3 linked regions of the Homo sapiens genome follow. The protein of the gene in region 1 purifies or fractionates together with the protein of each later gene. This does not show direct contact. Each region holds a gene or a part of one and is shown in the gene's direction. Other genes may lie near its edges.

Region 1 (7,144 bases):
AAAGAATAAGCTCCAGACACCCCTCGCCTCCAGAGCAAAGTTGAAGAAAAAAAAGAAAGACAAATTCTTTGACTGTTACTCCTTTCCCAGGTTTCTTAAGCATGATTATGTTTTACAAATGTCTGTATTTAGCCAGTTCTTGTTTTTCTTTCAATGCAGCTACAAAGTCACCAGCTATGCAAGGCCACAAGTTATGCTATAGATGATGTGACCTGTCATATGATTAACTACTTTTATTTATTGGAAGTCTGCTTATAAAAACCCCGCTCTGTCTTTGTTCGATGCTCAGCTTTTTAGATGACAGTCCACTAAGCCAGTGCGTACCTGAAATAAACAGTCCTCTCGTTCTCTGTCTCAGTCTTGCCAGTCCTCAGTTTCCTGCAACATCTCTACTAAAAATACAAAAATTAGCCAGGTGTGGTGGTGCGCACCTGTAATCCCAGCTACTCGGGAGCCTGAGGCACGAGAATCGCTTGAACCTGGGAGGCGGAGGTTGCAGTGAGCCGAGATCTCACCATTGCACTCCAGCCTGGGAAACAAGAGTGAAACTATGTCTCAAAAACACAGAATAAAAGAAAAGAAAAGATTATGCAAAATGGAAGAAACTAGGCACAAAAAGCCACATATTGTATGGTTCCACTTACATGAAATATCCAGAGTAGCCAAATCCATAGAGATCAAAAGCAGATTCACAGTTGCCAGGGTGTGGGAGGAGGGGGACTGGAAGAGATGAGGTTTGTTGTTGTTGTTTTGAGACTGAGTCTCACTCTGTCGCCCGGGCTGGAGTGCAATGGCACCATCTCAGCTCACTGCAATCTCTGCCTCCCGGGTTCAAGCAATTCTCTTGCCTCAGCCTCCCAAGTAGCTAGGATTATAGGCACCTGCCACCATGCCCAGCTAATTTTTTTTTTGTAGTTTTAGTAGAGACGGAGTTTCACCATGTTGGCCAGCCTGGTCTCGAACTCCTGACCTCAGGTGATCCACCCACCTCAGCCTCCCAAAGTACGGGCATTACAGGAGTGAGCCACTGCACTCGGCCTAATTTTTGTATTTTTAAGAGATGGGGTTTCACCATGTTGGTCAGGCTGGTCTCGAATTCCTGACCTCAAGTGAGCCACCTGCCTCGGCCTCACAAAGTGCTGGGATTACAGGTGTGAGCCACGGCGCCCAGCCTCTTTTTTGATTTTTCAAAACTGACTCTCATATTAAGGAAGCCAAAACTTAAGTGATAACTGAAATGATCGTGTTACTGACCACAGGTTCTTTAGGCTCCGATAAAAATTGACACGAGGCCAAGCAAATTTCCCAGACAAGGCTTTATTAGGGGCTTCCGTTCCACCACGGGGGAGACAGCACCGCAGGGAGAGGTCTCCGGCTGGCTCCCCAGGGGACTGCGTTGTGGCGTCTCGAGGAGGGCGACACGCGTAATTCATGAGGTAGGTGAGCGTCCCTGCAGGAGTGACAGAACGCACAGGGATAGTTAGGAATCGCGGTAACACATACATCGCAGGATCAGAACACGACGAGAAAGCCTCTCCCTGGCAGAGGCTTTTGTTTTGTTTCTGTCTGTCACCCAGTCTGGAGTGCAGTGACAAGATCTCGGCTCCCTGCAACCTCCGCCTCCCAGGTTCAAGCGATTCTCGTGCCTCAGCCTCCCGAGTAGCTGGGATTACACCACCACACCTGGCTAATTTTTGTATTTTTAGTAGAGACGGGGTTTCACCTTGTTGGCCAGGCTGGTCTCAAACTCCTGACACCTCAGGTGATCCGTCCGCTTCGGCCTCCCAAAGTGCTGGGATTCCAGGTGAGAGCTGCCGCGCCGAGGCAGAGGTCTTGGTCTTGTAATGAGGCCGAGGGTAAAGAGTGGTCGTGCTTCCGGCTTCCTGCACACAAAGGCAATGGAGTTCATTCCCTGAAGTACAAGATTGGAAGTGCGACGCTGCCTATCTTCATTTTTCAAGGTCGTGTGATCAGTGGATGTGGCATTTTGTGTAAGATTTACAGTGGAATGCTGCTTATCTTAATGCTTTCACTGTCCTTCAATGAGCAGGTAAGAAAAAAAAAGGAAGAAAGAAAAATGTTGGGGGGGGGAATGCATTAGCGAATGCATTAGTGGAGTTGGCAGCCGAGTCCCATCCCTCCTCTGTCTCAATAAGTGTCAGATGATGCTATCATATAATTTTGTGGGAAAAAATAGGCCAAAGAAATGAAATTCAGAAGGACTTATTCTTTTTGGTTCTAAAATCAGTTTCTGAGAGCTGGCAGGCCCCAACTGCCAAGAGGAGACCCTGGCGGCCACAGCTCATCCTCTCTGACCAAGCCTTAGCTGGGGATGGGCCGGCCTCCAGGCAGGGCCTCCCGCTGGCTGGATCCCGGGCCACACTGTACAGAAGACAACCCCGTAGAGACCTTGGGTGGGGCAGAAGCCCCCTTCCCTCACTGACACCCTGCCGGTCTCTCCTGGGGTCTCCCAGTCTCTGCTGCCCAGTGGGGAAGCACCCGTCTCAGCCCAACCGCAGCCCCCCCCGGCTCCCTCCTGCCCTTTCACCTTTCCTGCCATTCCCCACTGTGTCCTGAAGTTTCTAAGAACATCCCCAGCGCCCTGTTGTCAGCTCTGGGAAGTCTAAAGTTCAGGGCTTTGGGTAATTAAACCCAAGGCCTCTCAGTGGGCTGGGGGTGAATGACCTGGCGAACGTGCCTGCGGAGATGCTGGGAGGAAGCTGAGTCAGTCTGCGTCTTTGTCAGGGTGGGCTGAGGCCAGTGACCCTCTGGGGGTCAGGGCCCTTGCAGGCCTCTTCCTTCCCTGACCTCCACCTTAGGAGGCAGCTGGCCCCTGAGACGCCTGCCTCACGACATTGTCCTGTCCCAGGAACTGGACTTTAGGAGGAGGGGAAGCTGGAGGGGGATGCAGCTTGACTCTTGGGAGAGACTTTGAGGTGTCTGGGCACAGGAGTGGGGAGTCCTCCGGGTACCCCATCAGGGACTGCTTCCACTGCTTGTATGGCCTCACCAGCCCAGCGCAGGAAGCCCCCTCTCCCTTCCCAGAATTGACCCTCTGCACCCTCTCCTGGGCCCTCTTCTCACTACCTCCATCTCCACCATGCCCCAACAGAGCCCCTCCCCCAGGCCCCTTTGGCCGCTCTCCACACCCCACAGCTTTCTGTCTGACCTGGTTTCTTAGCCTCTCTGGACCTCAGCCTCCTTATCTGTAAAATGGGAATAAGGATACTACTTCCCTTGTAACGCGGTGGTAAAGTTTAAATAAGCTAAGGAACACACTGCATGTCCTGCGGGCCCTGGCACACCAGACATGCTGACAGACGCTGGCTGCTTTCATCAGCTATGCAACCAAATTCTAAGGGGCCCTTCGTATGTGTCAGGCTGCGTGCCAGGAACCTAGAGGTACCACCGTACCACAGTACAAGATGCTGTGTCTGGCTTCGAAGAGATTTCAGTCTATGTGGAGAGAGAGAAAAGGGAAGCTATCAGCCAATAAAATCGTTTGCAAGCCTGTAATTCAGCAGGTTTTCAAGACCTGTCAAATGCCCAGCAATCTCACTCTGCAACTCTGCCTCTTAAATACAGCATCTTCCGGCCCAGCGTGGGGGTGGCTAAGCCCATCATCCAGATGTGATGAACTGGGGTCTGGGAAACCCACACCGGCCTCATCTGGCTTTTCCAGCCTGTCCTCCCTTCCACACATCAGGCTGACAGCACCAAACACGGCCGAGGCCTCAGCCCTGAGTCTCCCCGCTGCAGAGTGCCCAAGCCTGAGTTCCAGCAGGTTCTTCAGGGGCCGCTGACCAGGGAACACTGCGGTGAGGAGCGAGGACTTCGTCCCCACCCCGGCCCAGGGCAGGGGCTTCGTGGTGAGCCCACCCCACCCCAGAAGGCTCCTGGAAGGGCAGGGCAGACTGGCAGCAAAATCCTATAGGATGGGCCGGGCCAGAGGCAAGGGGTGGCCAAAGGCACCTGTCCAAGAGGTGGGAGGGACCACACCTGGGGGCAGGGACGAGTCAGGCACAGGGAACTCCGCCAGCCTAGAGGATCAAATTCCTCCGGGGTGAACTCTGAGATAGAAAGTTGGCCCGGGAAGCTCAAGGAGGGAGAGCGGCAGAGGGGAAGACTCTGCAATTCTGCTTGCCCCCCACCCCGGCCCAGGCAAGCCACCCTGCCCCCGGCCCCCACCTGCCCGCCCCGCCTGCCCTTCCTCACCCCGGTGCCTGCGGGATTGCTGGAGAGAACGCGGCGATGGAGCCGGGCAGGACCCAGATAAAGCTTGACCCCAGGTAAGTGAGGGCGGCGGGCCCTGGGCCAGTCGCTGGGCAGCGGTGGCCCCTATCCCGCGGCCTGTCCTCTCTCCCTCCCAGAGCCCTTTGGCGGCCGCACTCAGAATGAGACAGGACTGGAAATGCTCTAGCTGTTCCTAGGTCCTCAGGGACAACGTGGGTTTGGGCCAGGGTGTGACACTCCAGGGCCTCGGCCTTGCCCCCCAGCGTGGGGAGAGAAAGGTCGCAGAGCGGGGGCTGTGGAAGGCATTCGCAGAGGAAATGGCAGCATCCCTCAGCAGCAGGGGGCCCGTCCGTCTGTAAGGACTCACCCTTCCTCTGGGATCCTGCTCTTCCTCTCTGGTCAGTCCCTGGGCTGCTGCCCGACCCGCATGGAGAGAATCCACGGTGGGCTCTTCAGGCACGGCAGCCAGGCACAGCCTGGCTAGGTGGCAGCTTGTCTTACTCCCCCACCTGGGCCAGTTCTCCACTCCCTCTAAGAAAAGGGCCCTGAGGCCGGGCGCCTGTAATCCCAGCACTTTGGGAGGCTGAGGCGGGAGTCCAGGAGTTTAAGCCCAGTTCCAGTTTGAGTCCTGGAGTTCGAGACCAGTGTCTGAGCAACATGGCGAAATCCTGTCTCTACCAAAAATATAAAAAATTAGCCGGGCCTGGTGGCGTGCACCTGTAGTCCCAGCTTACTCATGGGGATGGGGGTTGAGTAGATCACTTGAGCCCAGGAGGTCAAGGCTGCCTGTATGAGCCAAGACAGACCACTGCACTCCAGCCTGGACAACAGAGCAAGACCCTGTCTCAAAAAGAAAAAAAAAGAAAGAAAAAGGAAGGAAGGAAGGAAGGAAAGAGAAGGGGAAGGAAGAGAGAAAGAGAAAGAGAGAGCAGAAGGAAGGAAGGAAGGAGAAGGGGAAGGGGAAGGGAGAGAGAAAGAGAAAGAGAGAGTGAAAGGAAGGAAGGAAGGAAAGAAAGAAAGAGAGAGAAAGAGGCCCTGAGGGGAAATGGACAAAGTCCTGCACTCAGGAGTGGTTGAGGGTCCAGTGTGCAACCCTCCCCCTTCCCCCAGCCCCCATGGTTCTGAGCACAGGCTGGTGTCTCGCCAGGTACACAGCAGATCTTCTGGAGGTGCTGAAGACCAATTACGGCATCCCCTCCGCCTGCTTCTCTCAGCCTCCCACAGCAGCCCAACTCCTGAGAGGTGAGTGGGGACCCTCCTCAGAGGGAACTGAGAGGAGGGAAACCAGGATAGCTGAGTGGAGCTGGGGAGAGGCGGCCCTGAGCTGGTGCACCTGGGCAGCCGGGGAGAATAACTGGCCCGGTGTCTGTCATCGTGGTTAAGGCTCTGGAGAAGGGCAATGCCTCAAGGAGTCAGTGGGTCAAAAGGGTAGCATGAGAGCCTGGCTCCGGAGAGCAACCGTCATGTTGGGCCTCCACAAAACTGGCCTCAAAGCTCATTCAAACTGCGGACACTGCGACCTGGGGCGCTTTTTCAGACCCCAGAGCCATCTGGGGACCCAAGATGGTGCCCAAGTGGTCCAAGCCCCATCGGGTCTCCTGGAGGGCTGCACGGCATCCGCCCTGGACCCATGTCACTCTAGAGGGTGGTTACGGTGAGTGACGTGCTTCACACAGGTGAACCAGTTGTATTTGTTTTACGATCCAGCCTTTCTGAAAAACCTTTGTCCTCACTGGAGCATTCTGTTGTCGGGTTTTTGTGTGTGTGTTTGTGGGTATTTGCCTCATTCCACCCCTGAGCTCTCAGGTGGACAGATGGGATTCAAAAACCTGTTCTACAGTGTTTATTGTAGTGGAGTAATTTGTTTGCAATAATAAGTCATAATTGTCCACTGAAGGGGAGGGTGTGGGGATCCCCGAGGCCAGCTCAAGTTCAGCTGTTGGAAGAATTCCTTGACTGGAAATTTTACCTTTGCGTTTTGTCGCTCTGTTTCCTGAAGATAACTTGGGGTGCTCCTGGTCGTCCATCTACTGCTTTGATTCCTTGGATCCCACCCATTCTTTCACTTTAAGAAAAAACAAGTAATTGTTGCAGAGGTCTCTGTTTTGCAGCTTCCCTTTTGCAAGAAGCACTTTTTCCAAATAAAACAGTAATTAAAAAAAAAAAAACATAGGTGAACCTGCAAAAGTCCTCGCAGTGTTGGCCAACAAGATTCTATTACTGAATTACTTTTGAAAGTGAAAGGCATTGGCTGGGAGCGGTGGCTCACGCCTGTAATCCCTGCACTTTGGGAGGCCGAGGCAGGTGGATCACTTGAAGCCAGAAGTTGGAGACCAGCCTGGCCAACATGGTGAAACCCCGTCTCTACTGAAAATACAAAAATTAGCCAGGCGTGGTGGCGGGCACCTGTAATCCCAGCTACTCGGGAGGCTGAGGCAGGAGAGTTGCTTGAACTCGGGAGGCGGAGGTTGCAGTGAGCCGAGATCACGCCACTGCACTGCAGCCTGGGCAACAGAGTGAGTGAGACTCCGTCTCAAAAATAAAAGAAAAAAAAGGAAAAGAAAAAGAAAGTGAAAGGCATAGGATGGGGCTCAGCTTATTCCCCGGACACCAAAAACATTGAGAATCACGGCCCGAGCATGCTTAGAGAAAATGTGACTCACGCCTGCGTTTTATTTTGTTTTCCTGCTGCATACTGACTACCTCTGAAATGTTGGATACAAGTCTGTGTCTCTGTAGCACATTTAACACGTTTCCCAGGCAACAGGAAGCTCTCAGTGTGCGTTCTGTTGCAGACGTGGGCGTGTCCTTGGGCTGTGTAGGGCTTCATTTCAGATGATCTGAACCAGAGCGGTTGCCAACTGCCAGTGTCCGGAGATGCCTGGTGGCCACTCTGTGGTTAGTGGCAGTA
Region 2 (7,107 bases), on another chromosome or scaffold:
AGTAAGCCGAGATTGCACCACTGCACTCCAGCCTGGGCGACAAGAGCGAAACTCCATCTCAAAAAAAAAAAAAAAAAAAAAAAACAAACTATTCTGTATAGGTAATGAACGATTTTCAAAAATCTTAGATGAATCAATGAGATAACAGCCAAACACTCACTCAACTGGCATCTACTCAAAAAGCTATTGGTTTCTCATGATTAGCTTTGCCAAACCATCTCCCTAGATTATTTTTCTTTTTAAATTTCACTTTGCATTTGGTTAATCATTCCCTGGGAAAGCACACGGGGCAGGTGGGCCTCCTTGTCTTCACTTTGCCATTCCCTATCTGATGAATTCTGAACCTCAGTTTTTCATCCAAGAACTGGAGTTAAAACACCTGCACTATTATACAGGGCGTGAGGCTGTTGTCATGATAATCAATGAGCTGATGTGTGGTTGAAGCTCTTATCTGACTCCATAGATAGTTTTAAACTACCTAAGTATAAATTCAGCAGCTTTGCTTAAGATTTAAAGCAGGTATTATAAATATGCATTCCTTTGCCAATCTTTTAATAGAAGGACAGGCCTATTCTTTTGAAGATGGATCTGCTGATGAGAGCTCCCCTTTGTCTACTTTACATCAACCACACCCTTATTTCATTGTTTTGTGATTCCAGTGTTGGTTTCTTTAAAGTAAAGGAAGAATTTAGATATTTGCCGAGCCATTCTGAATATAGAAACTTCCTAGATCGCATATCCCTTGATCTTTTATCGTTAATTTACTCTCATCTAATTAACAGCGTTTTGTTTTTTTTTTTAGAAATTGACTTTTATTAAGTCTTTCCAAAGTAGCCAACTTAGTTTTCAAAGAAAATTTCTCTCTATTTTTATGTTCATCTAATCAGTGACAGTAATAAGTCAATCAGCTCATGTAATCCCAGTAACAAACAGCAGGATTGTGGACACACACAGTGGAGCCCTGATATGCTGCAGCTGGACAGTGGGAGCTGAGCAGGCAGGGCACCCCCCCCCCCCCGCCCCGCCGGCCAGGACTCCAGGCCTTCGGTGTTCAGTCTTGCCATGGCATCAGTCATTGGTTTTGTATAGGGAGCAGAGAAGGTTATTTAATCTGGTTAGTCAGATAAGTGGAGTTTACTCGTATGTGAAATTGCTTTCTTTGCTGTGCTGTGAGGAGCTGTACAAATATAAGGTGCTGTTACTGATTATTCAGCCAACATTTATGGACTACCAACTCTGTACCTGGCACAGTTTTGGTTCTGGGGTCAGAGATGACAAACTCCTACCCTGGGAGTCCACTGAGCGACCATACCAATAGGTCATGGCCTCAGAGCCGCGTGGCCCACGGCCCCTGTGACTCTCTCTGCTGTGGACCTTTCTCCTAGAACCCGATCATCAGCCAGTTCTTCCCCACCCTCCTGCTCTGGTCCTTCTCGGCCCTGCTCCCCTCCATTGTCTACTACTCTACACTGCTGGAGTCTCACTGGACCAAGTGAGTGCCCGGGAGCCCCGAGGCCCTGCCCCTAAGAAGGATATCTCTGACCGCTCCCTTGTCCACACCCTAACCCCCCAGCTGCTCAGGCAGTGGGCACATGGCAGGGGCCTCACTGGGGGCACATAGAGCATTTGGGGGACTGCGAGTGCTCACCTTTGACTTCCTGCAGGTCGGGGGAAAACCAGATCATGATGACCAAAGTCTACATATTCTTGATCTTCATGGTGCTGATCCTGCCCTCCCTGGGTCTCACCAGGTATATGCCACCACCTTCTGCTCTAAATTCAGAATAAGAGTCACATCAGGAGAGCACTGTCCCCAGGAGAATGCAAACGGTTTGGCAGCAGAAGCAAACCTCTAACAATATCTAAGCCTGTCGCAACCACTCGGCGTGCAGTAGGGCTGGGTCATTGATTCTTCTGGCAATATGATTGATTGTTCTTCTTTAAAAAAGAAAAAAACACCATATTGGTCAGGCTGTTCTTGAGCTCCTGACCTCAGGTGATCCACCCGCCTCGGCCTCCCAAAGTGCTGGGATTACAGGCGTGAGACTCTGTCTCAAAAAAAAAAAAAAAAAAAACCAGCTTGAAAATTTTGTGGCCAGGCACAGTGGCTCACGCCTGTAATCCTAGCATTTTGGGAGGCCGAGGTGGGCAGATTGCTTGAGCCCAGGAGTTCCAGCCTGGGCAGTCTGGCGAAACCCCATCTCTACAAAAGAGAAAAGAAAATGAAACTTATCAAGGACCTTCCACTTAGGGAAGGCCTCATCATGGCTTTATTTATCTCAAGGAAGGAAGTTTCTGTTAAAGCAGACTGTGACAGGTCATGCCGTAGTAAGTGGCATCGTTGAGAACAAAAGTCAATCTCGAGCTTTGGCCTGTTTTTAGAGCAAAAGAAAATGAAAGCATGTGTAGTGACAATATGGAATGCTGGAAATAAACTCTTAGGGGGTTCCTTTGTTTTTCAGTCTAGATTTTTTCTTCCGGTGGCTCTTTGACAAAACTTCCTCGGAGGCCTCCATCAGGTTGGAGTGAGTATTGCCAAGTTGAGTTCTGGAGCCATGGCCCTGGGTGAAAGTCCCACAGGGGCTGGGGCTGCAGTGGGATGGGTGGGGGCGGTCGTAGCCTATGCTTCTGAACAGGCATCTTCCTCCCCAGACAGCAGGGCTTGGGGCCTCACCTCCACCCTGCCAGGTTTCTGGTAGACACTGTGGGAGCTGACCCACTTTGTGCTATGCTTGCAGAAATGTGGTTAATTTTTTAGGCCAGAACTCAATTAGCAGCTGTCTCATTCATTGAAACTTACTGAGCACAGAGTCACATGGGGAGAAGGAATTGCTGGGTCTCAGTGGTGCCAGGGAGTGGGGAAAGGAGAATAATAATTAAAGATGGCAGCCAGGATGCCTCTGGGCTCTGGGGATTATTTTTGCCAGAATAGAATTAAATTTATTACTGATGTATCCTTGTTAGTATTTTAAACTTATACCATGCCACTTAATAGTAATAGCTATTGTTTAAGAAGGCACTATGCTAAATGCTTTATGCATCTTTTTCTCACTGTATCTTTACAATGAGCTATGAGGAAGATACTATTATTCTCTCCATTTTACAGATGAGGAGACTGAGGTTTGGAGACGTTGAATAACTTGCCCAAGTTTATCCAGCTGGTTAAGGAACAGAGCTGGGATTCAACCCCAGCCCCTACAGACTATACATTAGGTCTTAATATAGGTCCAGAGGCTTGGCATTGACTTTCCTAAAAGAATGTGCTTACCTGTAAGGATGGGGCGAGTTATTTTAAATGAGTTCTTGCTGAGTAAGCTGATGAGTTGGGAGCTGATGACTGTGACAGACACACATACATACAGCCAGCAATAGTCTAGGTTGACAGTGACTTTCAGATTGACAAGTCCAGTGACCAGCTCAATCCTCATCTTATGATCTATCAGCGACATCTGACACATTTATCCGAGCCTTCCTCCTCGAAGCTCGGCCTTGGGTCTCTCATCTCGCAGCATCCTCTTGTCACCCTCCTTGGTGGGTTCTCTCCCATCTCCCCAACTCTAGATTTTGGCTGCCTGAAGGCTCAGCCCCCAGTTCTGGGTCCACACTGCCTCTCTAGGTGACTTCAGCTGAACCCACGGCTTCCATGCCATGATACTGCTCCTGAATTAACTTATGCGGACAACATCCACATTTATGCCTCTAGCCTGCACCTCCAGGCTGGTAACCCAACTGCCCACCTCAAACTCTAGCTGGAGTTTTACTGGGTACCACGGATGTTACCTGCCCAAAACCAAACTCTCGACTTTTACCCTCAAATCTGCTACTCTACAACTTTCCCCATTCCATATTGTTTTTCTACTTGTTTTGGCAAAAAACCTCAAAGTTCACCTTGTTTCCTTTCTATCCCTCCCATGCCATACCCAGCCTACCAGAAAATCCTGACAACTCTCTCTAAAGTAGATCCAGAATCCCTTCATATCTCACCACCTCCATCACAACCGCCCTCATCCCACATGGGGATGACACAGTGGCCATCTGTGTAGTCTCCCTGACCCCATTGGAACAGATCCCTTGTCCTGGGCTGGCCCCCAGCCCCTTTCAGCCTTGTCTTCTGCCTCCCCTCGCCCACTGCTGTCCAGCCCCTGGATGTGCAGCAGACGAGGACATCCTCAGGTGTCTTGTATGTTGTTCCCTTTCCCTGGAATCCTGTCTTCCCAGGTTTGGGGATGACTTGCTCCTTCACCTCTTCACATTTCTGCACGAATATCACCTCGTTAGAAAGGCTCCTCCAACCCCTGTATGACATAGGAACCCTCCCTGCTTTGTTTTCCTCTAGTGCTCACCGTCCCCAGCAGATGGAATATTTGTTTGTCTGCTTGTTTGTGCCCCCAGCTAGAATGTGAACTTCAAGAGAGTGGCGCAGGGGCTTTGTTCTATTCTCAGTGCCTAGAAAGGTGCTTGGCACACAGATGTGTTTCCCAAATATGTGCTGAATGAACGGAAGAGTATACAGCCCTCCCAGGGGCTTTCTGCTCCTGCCCAGCCTAGGGGCCCCTCCTCTCCCTCCAAGAGCGGCTCTCAGCTCACAGACCTGGGCCCTGGTTTCCCCAGGTGCGTCTTCCTGCCTGACCAGGGTGCCTTCTTTGTGAACTATGTCATCGCCTCGGCCTTCATCGGCAATGGCATGGAGCTGCTGCGGCTGCCAGGTCTCATCCTCTATACCTTCCGCATGATCATGGCCAAGACGGCTGCTGACCGCAGGAATGTCAAGCAGGTGCCATCCCCTGGGCCCAGGGCTGTGCCTCTGACTCCCTCCCATGTCCCCCTTCACTGACCCGAGGGCCTCTCACCCCCACTACCCCCACTAGTGGGTAGCATTTACCTGACTACCCACTAGTGCAGGCACTGGGCTAAGTGCTTCTCAAACCCGGGTCCAGGCAGGCGTGGCCTCCTCCAGCCTCCTCTCTAGCTCACAGGCTGGAGGAGAGAGCTTGGGACTTTGGCATTTGAAACGGTTTGATCGCACACATACATACATACAACTCAAACCAACAGACTCTTTTTCTGTAGGCACCCATTTGCATAAATTCTTAGCCAAACCCCAGATGTCAAAGGCATTTTCGGCTTGTGGCATTTATTCCAGGATTCCCTGAACTGGAGGGTGTGGCTTTCTCTTTTATTCTCCTCTGCCATGGTGGGCACTGTGCGAGGAAAGTGGGAGAAGTGCTGCATTCCTTCATTTCATTCTCAGCCCCCTTATGAGCTGGGCACTGCTAGTATCCCGATTTCACAGAGGCATGAACTAAGCTGGCCCAGGATCCCCTGCTAGAAGGGCTGGAGTCACTCTACACCTCTTCCCTGACCACCTCTTCCCTCCAGGGGCTCACATGCCTGTTGGGTGGAACGAAGGGAGCACTAGCAAACACGCATCACCATGCCTCGGGAGGGCTGGGTGCACTGAGTGAAGCAGGGCAGGCTGGGAGGGATGGGAAGGACCTTGGGAGGCGGGGAGCCACGCATCTCCTATTTCCAAAGTCCTCCTCCACCCTGCTCTCCCATCACCACTTAGAGAGCACAAAAGGGTGTTTGAGGTGGAACAAGTCCATGAGCTCCTCACCACCTCCTCCTCCCAGAACCAGGCCTTCCAGTACGAGTTTGGAGCCATGTATGCATGGATGCTGTGTGTCTTCACTGTCATCGTGGCCTACAGCATCACTTGTCCCATCATCGCGCCATTTGGTGAGTGGCCCTGGAGCCTGTCCCAGGGTACATGGGTACATGGACGGCTGATTGCACCAAACCTCTCGGGGACAGCTATCACCAGGGCACAATGGAGTTCCCAAAACCACAGCCACAAGAGCCACAAGCTGCTAAAGACTCACGTGACACCAGATTTCACTCATTTCTTTCTTTTTTTGTTTTGAGACAGGGTCTCATGCTGATGCCCAGGCTGGAGTGGCATGATCTTGGCTTACTGCAACCCCCACCTCCTGGGCTCAAGCCATCCTCCCATCTCAGCCTCCTGAGTAGCTGGGATTACAGGTGCCCGCCACCATGCCTGCCTAACTTTTTGTATTTTTAGTAGAGATGGGGTTTCACCATGTTGGCCAGCCTGGTCTTGAACTCCTGACCTCAGGTGATCCACCCGCCTCAGCCTCCCAAAGTGCTGGGATTATAGGCATGAGCCACAGCACCCGGCCTCATTCATTTTTAAATGAATTCCTCCCACTGGCCCTCAGCTAGGACCTCTCTTAGTATTTCTGGTCTGAGGTTCTCTGCCCACTGACTATGTCGTTCATGGTTGATTTCTTTAGCAGCAAGTAAGACAGTGCCAGAGTCACAATCAAAGCTCTCGTGCTGCTTTCACTCTGGCAGATGCCTGCCTCCACGTGGATTACCACATTTCTCACCTCATCCTACAAGGCAGTTCCTGTTTCTATTCCCCCTTCACACAAAATAACTTCGTATGTTGTTAGTAAGCAGGAGAACCAGCCTTTGAACTCAGGACTGTTTAAAGACCAAGGTCCTGGCCACTGAAATAAAACATCTGCAACTGGCAGATTAATGAAAGGCTCTAGAAGGAAACAAAAAACCCAAGAGACTGCTGGCAGTGATAGCTGAGTTTTAGGGGGAAAAGTTGTTTTAGTTTTCCCTGTATACTTTCTTGTGTAGTTTTAAAAATCTACAGTATTTACACTTTCAAAACAAAATTTATTTTTTAAAAAAGAACCTGGGGCTGGGCACGATGGCTTATGCCTGTAATCCCAGCACTTTGGGAGGCCTAGGCAGTGCATCACCTGAGGTCAAAAGTTCAAGAACAACCTGGCCAATATGATGAAACCCTGTCCCTACTAAAAATACAAAAATTAACTGGGCATGGTGGCAGGCGCCTGTAATCCCAGCTACTCGGGAGGCTGAGGTAGGAGAATCACTTGAACTCAGGAGGCAGAGGTTGCAGTGAGCCAAGATTGCACCAGTGCACTCCAGCCTGACCAATGAGCGAGACTCCATCTCAAAAAAAATAAAAAATAAAAAAACAAAAGAACCTGGCATAATAGAAAAGGCAGCACCCACTTTCTGTTGGTCCCCTGTGTGCTCCTGTGCCAC
Region 3 (7,107 bases), on another chromosome or scaffold:
AGGCCATTTGCTTGTGTTTAGGGAAGTTATACCACTTGCTGGTTTCCTCTGCTACTCTATTGTATGTTCAAATTGCAGCCAATAGTTAAATGTACTATATCTGAACAGCTCTTAGAACAGTGTCTGGCATGTTTTAAGTACTGTACAACCATTTATTAAAGATATAAAAACAAAGCAATATCCTTTTTCTGATACTTCAACACAATACATCAGGGATTCCACTTGGACTCAAATGTAGCCAAATACCAGGTATATTCTTTTACTTTTTGACCTTTGGTCTTTTTCCTGCAGCTTCACCTACTTCTAGTTTATGGGATTTTTTTTATGTTCTAGGCCCTGTGCATAGCACAGCAACTCATCCCCACTCTGTCCCTTTAGAGTGGGCAGATCATGAGTATTGTTCCCTGGGTAAAGTGTCTGACTGCCAGACCCACTAGATGATCTCGACCTGGACCTAGCAGTTCCTCTCTGTCTTGTTAACTGCTGTGCTAAATATTCCACCCAGCGTTTTCAGCTGTCTTCAGTGTAAGGCTTGCCCCAAGTTACCTTTTGTCACTATTGGAAATGAAAATTCTACTTCATGTGCTTTATGTAGTTTAAATCATATCTTCACAAGACCCTAAAAAGGAAACAAGTGGGTTTTCTTAGTTCTACAGATGAAGAAAAATGAGGCATGGAGAGTTTAATTTTCTTGTCATGGGTCATAGAGTTGATGAATAATAAATCAGATTTTGAACCCAGGAAGTGTGGTTACAGAGCTCATTCTGGTCCATTTTGTGCTGCTGTAACAGAATTCCACAGACTAATTTATAAAGAACAGAAATTGATTGGCTCACAGTTCTGTAGGCTGGGAAGTCTGAGATCAAGGGGGCTGGCATCTGGTGAGGACTTTGTTGCAGTGTCACCCCCACGGTGGTGGGGGAGAGAGAGGTGGTAGGGAGAAACAAAAATGGGGCGGGGGGGTTAGAAACAAAAGGGGGCCAAACTTTTATAAGGAGCTCATTCCATGCTAATAAACTCCCTCCTGTGATAATGTCATTAATTTGTTAAGTCTGCCCTTGTGGCCTGATTACCCTTCAGTAGGCCCCACCTCTCAACACTGTTGCATTGGGGATTAAGTTTCTAACATGATTTTTGGGGGACATATTTAAACCATAGCAGAGCTTGTGTTCTTAACCTCTGTGTCTACTCATTTTCTTCATTTCACAAAGCAGTATAAACTGTTTTGTCATGAAAAGCATTCTTTTTAAAAGGTCAAACAAGTCTCCATCTTTGCATGCTTCCCTTACAACTTTGGGCACAGCTTGGCAAAAGCCTAGGCATCTAGAATTTAATATCCATAAGTGTAGTATATTCTGTATCTTTTGAAATGGCCATGTAATATAGATATCAATTTAGTTCACTATTTTTATGGATTTAGACATAGCTTCACAAACATCTCAGTCTTGCAGAGAGAAAAAAATTATCTGAATTTTGCCAAAATTGCCTGTGTTGTTTTATTGAATTTGGTCAAGATATGCAGGGATGACGCATACACATCCAGTAATTGAACCATTTGAATGTCTGGTATGGAAACCAAATTTTTAAAATCTGGAATCTTCAACTCTGAAAACTCGTATCAGTGAATAGGACTCAGAAAGCTCAATTTGTATGCTTTTATGAGCCAAAAAGTACGTGGGATTGTGTCAAAGCAGGATACTGTTATTTACCTCAGATGACTGAAACCACACCAGGACAGCCAAGGGCCTTCCAGGGTGCCAGGGCATCGAAGTACCCTCCACGGCATTCTCTTGGGGATCCAACACTTACATGTCACCAGCAGCAAGAGCTGCTTCATTTCTTCTATTCCATTTGCTTGACCAAATGCTGATGCATTTCTTTTTCAGGTCCACGCTAGTTTGATTTTGTTATTAATATTGTTTTAAAAAATGCCTTTTTCTGCCTTTGGTAAACTAAAGGTCTAACATATATTCCAACTTCTTTTGACAGAGGAAAAGACAAGCATACGAATCTAACCTTATCTGTCATGGCCTGCAGTTAGAAGCAACAAGATCAGTAAGTACTGGTCCCTTTTCAGCCCTCGGCTGACCACTGTTCTCGGGCAGCTTCGTGCCACTTGGAATACTTGGGTGACATTGGAAACATGCAGCCCTGGCCACATCTTAGTCATAGACTGGGAGAGGAGTCAATCAAAATCTGCATTGTGTAGGATGTATTCTTTTTTTCTGATCAAAACTAGCAGATCTTTTTTAATAGCCAACGAATTTTACAATGAATGCATGTATGAATGATTATTTTCTTTCTTTAAGAAACTTCTAAAAGCTTTTTTGTTATACAAAAAATAGTTTATGGTAAAAAATTAGAAAACATAAGAATAAGGAAAATAATCTGTATCTTAATTATCCATAAATAATTTTGCAGTCCTTCTGAGCTGTTTTACTCAAAAATATATATGTACACATTTTTTATCTTTCAAAAAGGAGAAAATTACCACTTCACAGTTTTATAATTTGCTTTTTCCCTTTAATATATAGCAAATGGATTTATGTCAATAAATATAATTCTTTGACATTTTTAACAGCCACATAATATGATATTGAACAGATAGACAATAAGTTCATTCGAGGTTTAGAAAATTAAAAATTTTTCATTATGCTAGCACTACAATGAATATTCTAGTGTTTTTACTTTAAGTCAATAATTAGGGTAGAGTGATAGACAAATAAGTTTGGTTTTCTTCATTTTATAAATTATTTTCATAGTTTTATGAACTATGATGATTTGAATTACTTCCTTAATGATTCAAACCAAGAAATCGTCTTTAAGACAAAAATTTATGATGGTTTGCAAATCTGTTTTTATTGTTATCTTCACTTTTAGTGGTGGTCTCTGTATTGTTTTTTTAAAGCTACCAACAACATAAGAAAAATCTATGTGTTTTAAAATTGTGAAAAGAGTTGGTTTCTTGTTCTGCGTTTTTATTTTTCCAATATAGGTATTGGATGACAAGCTTGTATTTGTAAAAGTACACGCACCATGGGAGGTGTTATGTACGTATGCTGAGATAATGCACATCAAATTGCCTCTGAAACCCAATGATCTGAAAAACCGGTCCTCAGCCTTTGGTACACTCAACTGGTTTACCAAAGTCCTCAGTGTAGACGAAAGCATCATCAAGCCAGAGCAAGAGTTTTTCACTGCCCCATTTGAGAAGAACCGGATGAATGATTTTTACATAGTTGATAGAGATGCTTTCTTCAATCCAGCCACCAGAAGCCGCATTGTAAGTCTAAACCAAATTTAGTTGCTGTCTTGGGGTAATTTGGAACCTGCTGTTTTGTGGTTTGGTTGGTTTGGTTTTATTTTTAAAAACTGCACAAAAAGAAAAGAAATATGCCAGCAGATTTGTGTTACAGTAGTAAACAATGATTGGATTGGTTAATTACACTATATAAACCGCATACTCTATTTTGGAATCTTTTTAGGTTTACTTCATCCTCTCTCGGGTCAAGTATCAAGTGATAAACAATGTTAGCAAGTTTGGGATCAACAGACTTGTAAACTCTGGGATCTACAAGGCAGCTTTCCCACTCCATGATGTAAGTTAAAAGGCAAAAATGAACTAAAAGGCCTTCTGTATACTCTGGTGTTGACAATAGCAAAGGGCTAACTTTCCTGACTGTAAGTTTCTTCCTCAGTAAAATGAAGGGAACATACTGCAAGATTACAAGCTCATTTAGGGTAAGAACTAGGTCTTTTGTTCACAGATGGATCCCAGTTATAAAGATACTCAGTTTTAAAGGAGCGAATGAATGAATGGACAGGACCTCTCTCACAGTTAATGTGTAAAGCAGTATAGATTAGCAGTTAATCTGTGTTAGCATTTCTGAGACCAAAATGCCTGCCCTGCCACTTTCTAGCTGGATGACCTTGTGAAAGTCATTTAGCCTTTCTTCCTCCATTTCCTCATCAATAAGCTGGGGATAAATTATTACCTACCTCCTAGAGTTGTTAAGAGGATTAAATTAATCCATTAAATTAATCCAAATGTTAGTCCCTAGCATATAATAAATACTATTATAAGTGTTAGCTGTTTTCATAATTACTAACAGATGTTATTATCAACCAGAAAAGATTAGTTCTTTGTCAGCAAAATACATGTTAGACCTTCTCATTTATCATTTTCTGCAACATAGACTTTTCTTCCTCATTTGGAATACGATTTTCAAACTGTCCCCTGGAATATCCCTGGGCTTTTAAAAAGGCATCTGTCAGGGTTGTTGTGACAATGGCAGTACCCCAGATGGTTGACATTTTTTTAAGGACTACATTCTGAGACCACAGCAACCCCTCAAATTCAAGAGTACTTCTCTAGCCGAGAACATCTCTCGTGAAATGAAATTTTTAAAATGTGACCACTGTAAATGCAGGGACATTATAACTAAAGCTGTTTAAACTCTGTCATTGAAATAAATTAAATACTATATTATATTGCATTATTACTTTGTTATATTCACTATCAATTTATCTGACTGTGTAAGACCAAAGAAAGTAAAGACTGAGATTGGTAATTGCTACTGTGTAGTACATGTATTTGTGGATAGAGACGATATTGAAATGTACTGAATAACATAATAAAACTAGGACACTAAACAGCAGCTTGATACACATGGAAAAGTAGAGAACAGGGAGCTGGGTGAGGTAAATACTGATCCTAAGAGACCCAATGTAGCCATCCAGCCTGAGAGTCCATGTGTTTTACTTTTGTGCCCCACTGAATTTAGCTAATTGCGAATAACAGGACATGAATTTTGAGGCCACTTGCAAATAGCTGTCACGAATATTAATTTGGGATGCCAGGGTTCTCTAACAGTTGACATTTGCTTTTGGCCATGTCTTTTCCACTAAAGCCTCTTCTAATTGCAGTGGTCCTGTATTCAGGCTAACAAATGGTCCCATGTGGTATTTGAGAGGGAGGTGTGTGAAGGTCAGGGCCTGTGCCCTGATTTGGCTGGGTGGTAATCTGGTTCTAGTGCCAGAAGAAGAAAAATGAGTCAGAAAAAAAGGCAACTGGATTTAAGCAGGAAGTTTTGTTTCTTGAATAAGCTAAGTGTGTAACATGATACCCAGCTTTATTGTTTGTTTTCTGTATGTTATCACAGAATAACTGCTGAACTGGGGGCAAAGAAGCCTAGGTTTTAGAATTGACCCTGCTGCTAACCAGCCAAGGCCTTGGTTTCCCCATTGTCCAAGGAGAGGGGTGGGTTATCACGTGTTCCTCTGGTGTGGTGATTTGGGCACTTGGGTGGCCCAATTTTTCATTGTGTAGGACTGCCCCACTTAAAGCATTTTAAGCATCTCTGGGGCCCTCACAGAGTCCCTGCAGTGCTCCCCAGGATTGTAACACCCAATCGTTCATCCCTGCCCACATTCATAAATGACCCCCAAGGAGGGTAGTACCATGCCTGGTTAAGAATCACTAAAAATTAGATGGTATTTCCACCCTTTCCAGAAGGTGAGGACCCCTTGTTCACAATTGACTATCAAGTATTTGTATCACATTTAAGAAGCAGATTTGTGAAAACACGATGATTATGGTGCTTACATGTTCCCTTCTGCGTCACAGTGCAAATTCCGCCGTCAGTCAGAGGATCCCAGCTGCCCTAATGAACGGTACCTTCTGTACAGAGAATGGGCTCATCCTCGAAGCATATACAAAAAGCAGCCCTTGGATCTTATCAGGTGAGGGGTTGTAGGGAGTACTCCAGGGGGAGGCACTCAGGGTGTTACCCCCACAGCATCTGAATGTGACAGTACTCATCAAGACTCTTGCCAGTGAAGGGAGCTGACCCAGAGTGCTGAGCTTCGTTGGCCAGGGTTTTTATTGAGGCTTAATTATGTGGGCATGATTAATTGAATCATTACCCATCTCCAGTATCATCCTCCCCCTGGAAGATGGCCAGTAATATGTGGCTCAAAGCTCCAGTTCTCCAATCACATGGTTGATCTTCTGGCATGGCCAGCCTCCACCCTGAGTCATCTCATTAGCACAAACTCTCTAGAGGTCCACCATGAGCCACTTCACTGGCATAAACTATCAGGCGTAGTCCTAGGGTCCCACTGTGAATAAAAAGGCACTCCTATCTCTCAGGAAGTTCCAAGGGTTTAGAGGTTACCCACCGCCCAGGAACTGGGATGCAGACCCACCAAATTCCATATTGCACAGAAGTAAATGTTAGATGTAGTTTCTATTGTATGGTAAGACATGTACATTTTCACTCTTTTCTTATGTCTGCCTCTAGGTTCTATTTCGTTGTATCTCACAAGATACAATGACTAGCTCAAGAGTTTTTCTTCCCAAGGTACCCTGTTGGTTTTCCTCCAGAAGCTTACGTTGTTTGGGCAGGGCTGAGGATTCTGGCTTGTGGGAGATAGACCAAGAACACCCAAACAAGCCAATAAAACATGAAAATAAATAAACAGAATTTCTAATGGAAGTGAAGAAAATAACAGAGCAATAGGATGGGAGGGCAGAGTGGGAAGTGAGTTGAGGGAGTTATCTTTGAGGAGGTGACTTTTAAGCTGAGATCGGATAGTGAAGAGGAGCCAGTGCTTTGAGGACTTGGCAGAAGTCCTTCTAGGAATAGGGGCAGCTTGTACAGTGGCCCTGAGATGCACACACATTTGGCAAGTTTGAGGAAACATCAGAGACCAGTGCTAGTGAGAAACAGAGCAAGACATGAAGTTAGAGGGGTGGCAGGAGCGCCGAAAAGAGTTTAGACTTTAATTGCAGTGAGAAGCAGTTGTAATATTTTAAATGTTTAAGTCATTGTATCCTATTCACGTTTTGCAGATAATGTGGAGAATGGATTATAAGGGGTACAGGGAGCAGGGAGACCACTAGGTAGGAGGCTGTTTGAGCCAGGCAGAAGACTGTGGGAGCAGATTTGGGATGTGTTTGGGGAGTCGGGTCGACAGGACTTGTTTATGGATTGGATGTGGAGAGTGACGAGGAGAGGAGAGTTAACTTCATGTCTGTCTGGAGCCACGTACCTGTTTTTTTATGGTGTCTCAACACCCCATGCACTTGCCACCTACTTGAGAAAA

Evidence for each region.
Region 2: the proteins of SLC51A (region 1) and TMEM63A purify together in Homo sapiens (affinity purification with mass spectrometry; 2 studies listed by BioGRID and IntAct, with this or other methods). This does not show direct contact.
Region 3: the proteins of SLC51A (region 1) and ANO6 purify together in Homo sapiens (affinity purification with mass spectrometry; 2 studies listed by BioGRID and IntAct, with this or other methods). This does not show direct contact.

What each region holds. Positions count from the first base shown.
Region 1 is NC_000003.12:196,212,462-196,219,605, forward strand, and holds the start of SLC51A (organic solute transporter subunit alpha), read left to right. Parts: upstream 1-4,072; 5' UTR 4,073-4,251; coding exon 4,252-4,289; exon of another isoform or gene 4,290-4,575; intron 4,576-4,600; exon of another isoform or gene 4,601-4,851; intron 4,852-5,380; coding exon 5,381-5,475; intron 5,476-6,202; exon of another isoform or gene 6,203-6,551; intron 6,552-6,896; exon of another isoform or gene 6,897-7,144. UniProt on the Homo sapiens protein: Essential component of the Ost-alpha/Ost-beta complex, a heterodimer that acts as the intestinal basolateral transporter responsible for bile acid export from enterocytes into portal blood. Efficiently transports the major species of bile acids (taurocholate).
Region 2 is NC_000001.11:225,851,296-225,858,402, reverse strand, and holds part of TMEM63A (mechanosensitive cation channel TMEM63A), read left to right. Parts: intron 1-1,385; coding exon 1,386-1,492; intron 1,493-1,664; coding exon 1,665-1,751; intron 1,752-2,462; coding exon 2,463-2,525; intron 2,526-4,611; coding exon 4,612-4,774; intron 4,775-5,633; coding exon 5,634-5,739; intron 5,740-7,107. UniProt on the Homo sapiens protein: Mechanosensitive cation channel with low conductance and high activation threshold. In contrast to TMEM63B, does not show phospholipid scramblase activity. Acts as a regulator of lysosomal morphology by mediating lysosomal mechanosensitivity.
Region 3 is NC_000012.12:45,345,033-45,352,139, forward strand, and holds part of ANO6 (anoctamin-6), read left to right. Parts: intron 1-1,989; coding exon 1,990-2,055; intron 2,056-2,995; coding exon 2,996-3,283; intron 3,284-3,485; coding exon 3,486-3,599; intron 3,600-5,626; coding exon 5,627-5,742; intron 5,743-7,107. UniProt on the Homo sapiens protein: Small-conductance calcium-activated nonselective cation (SCAN) channel which acts as a regulator of phospholipid scrambling in platelets and osteoblasts.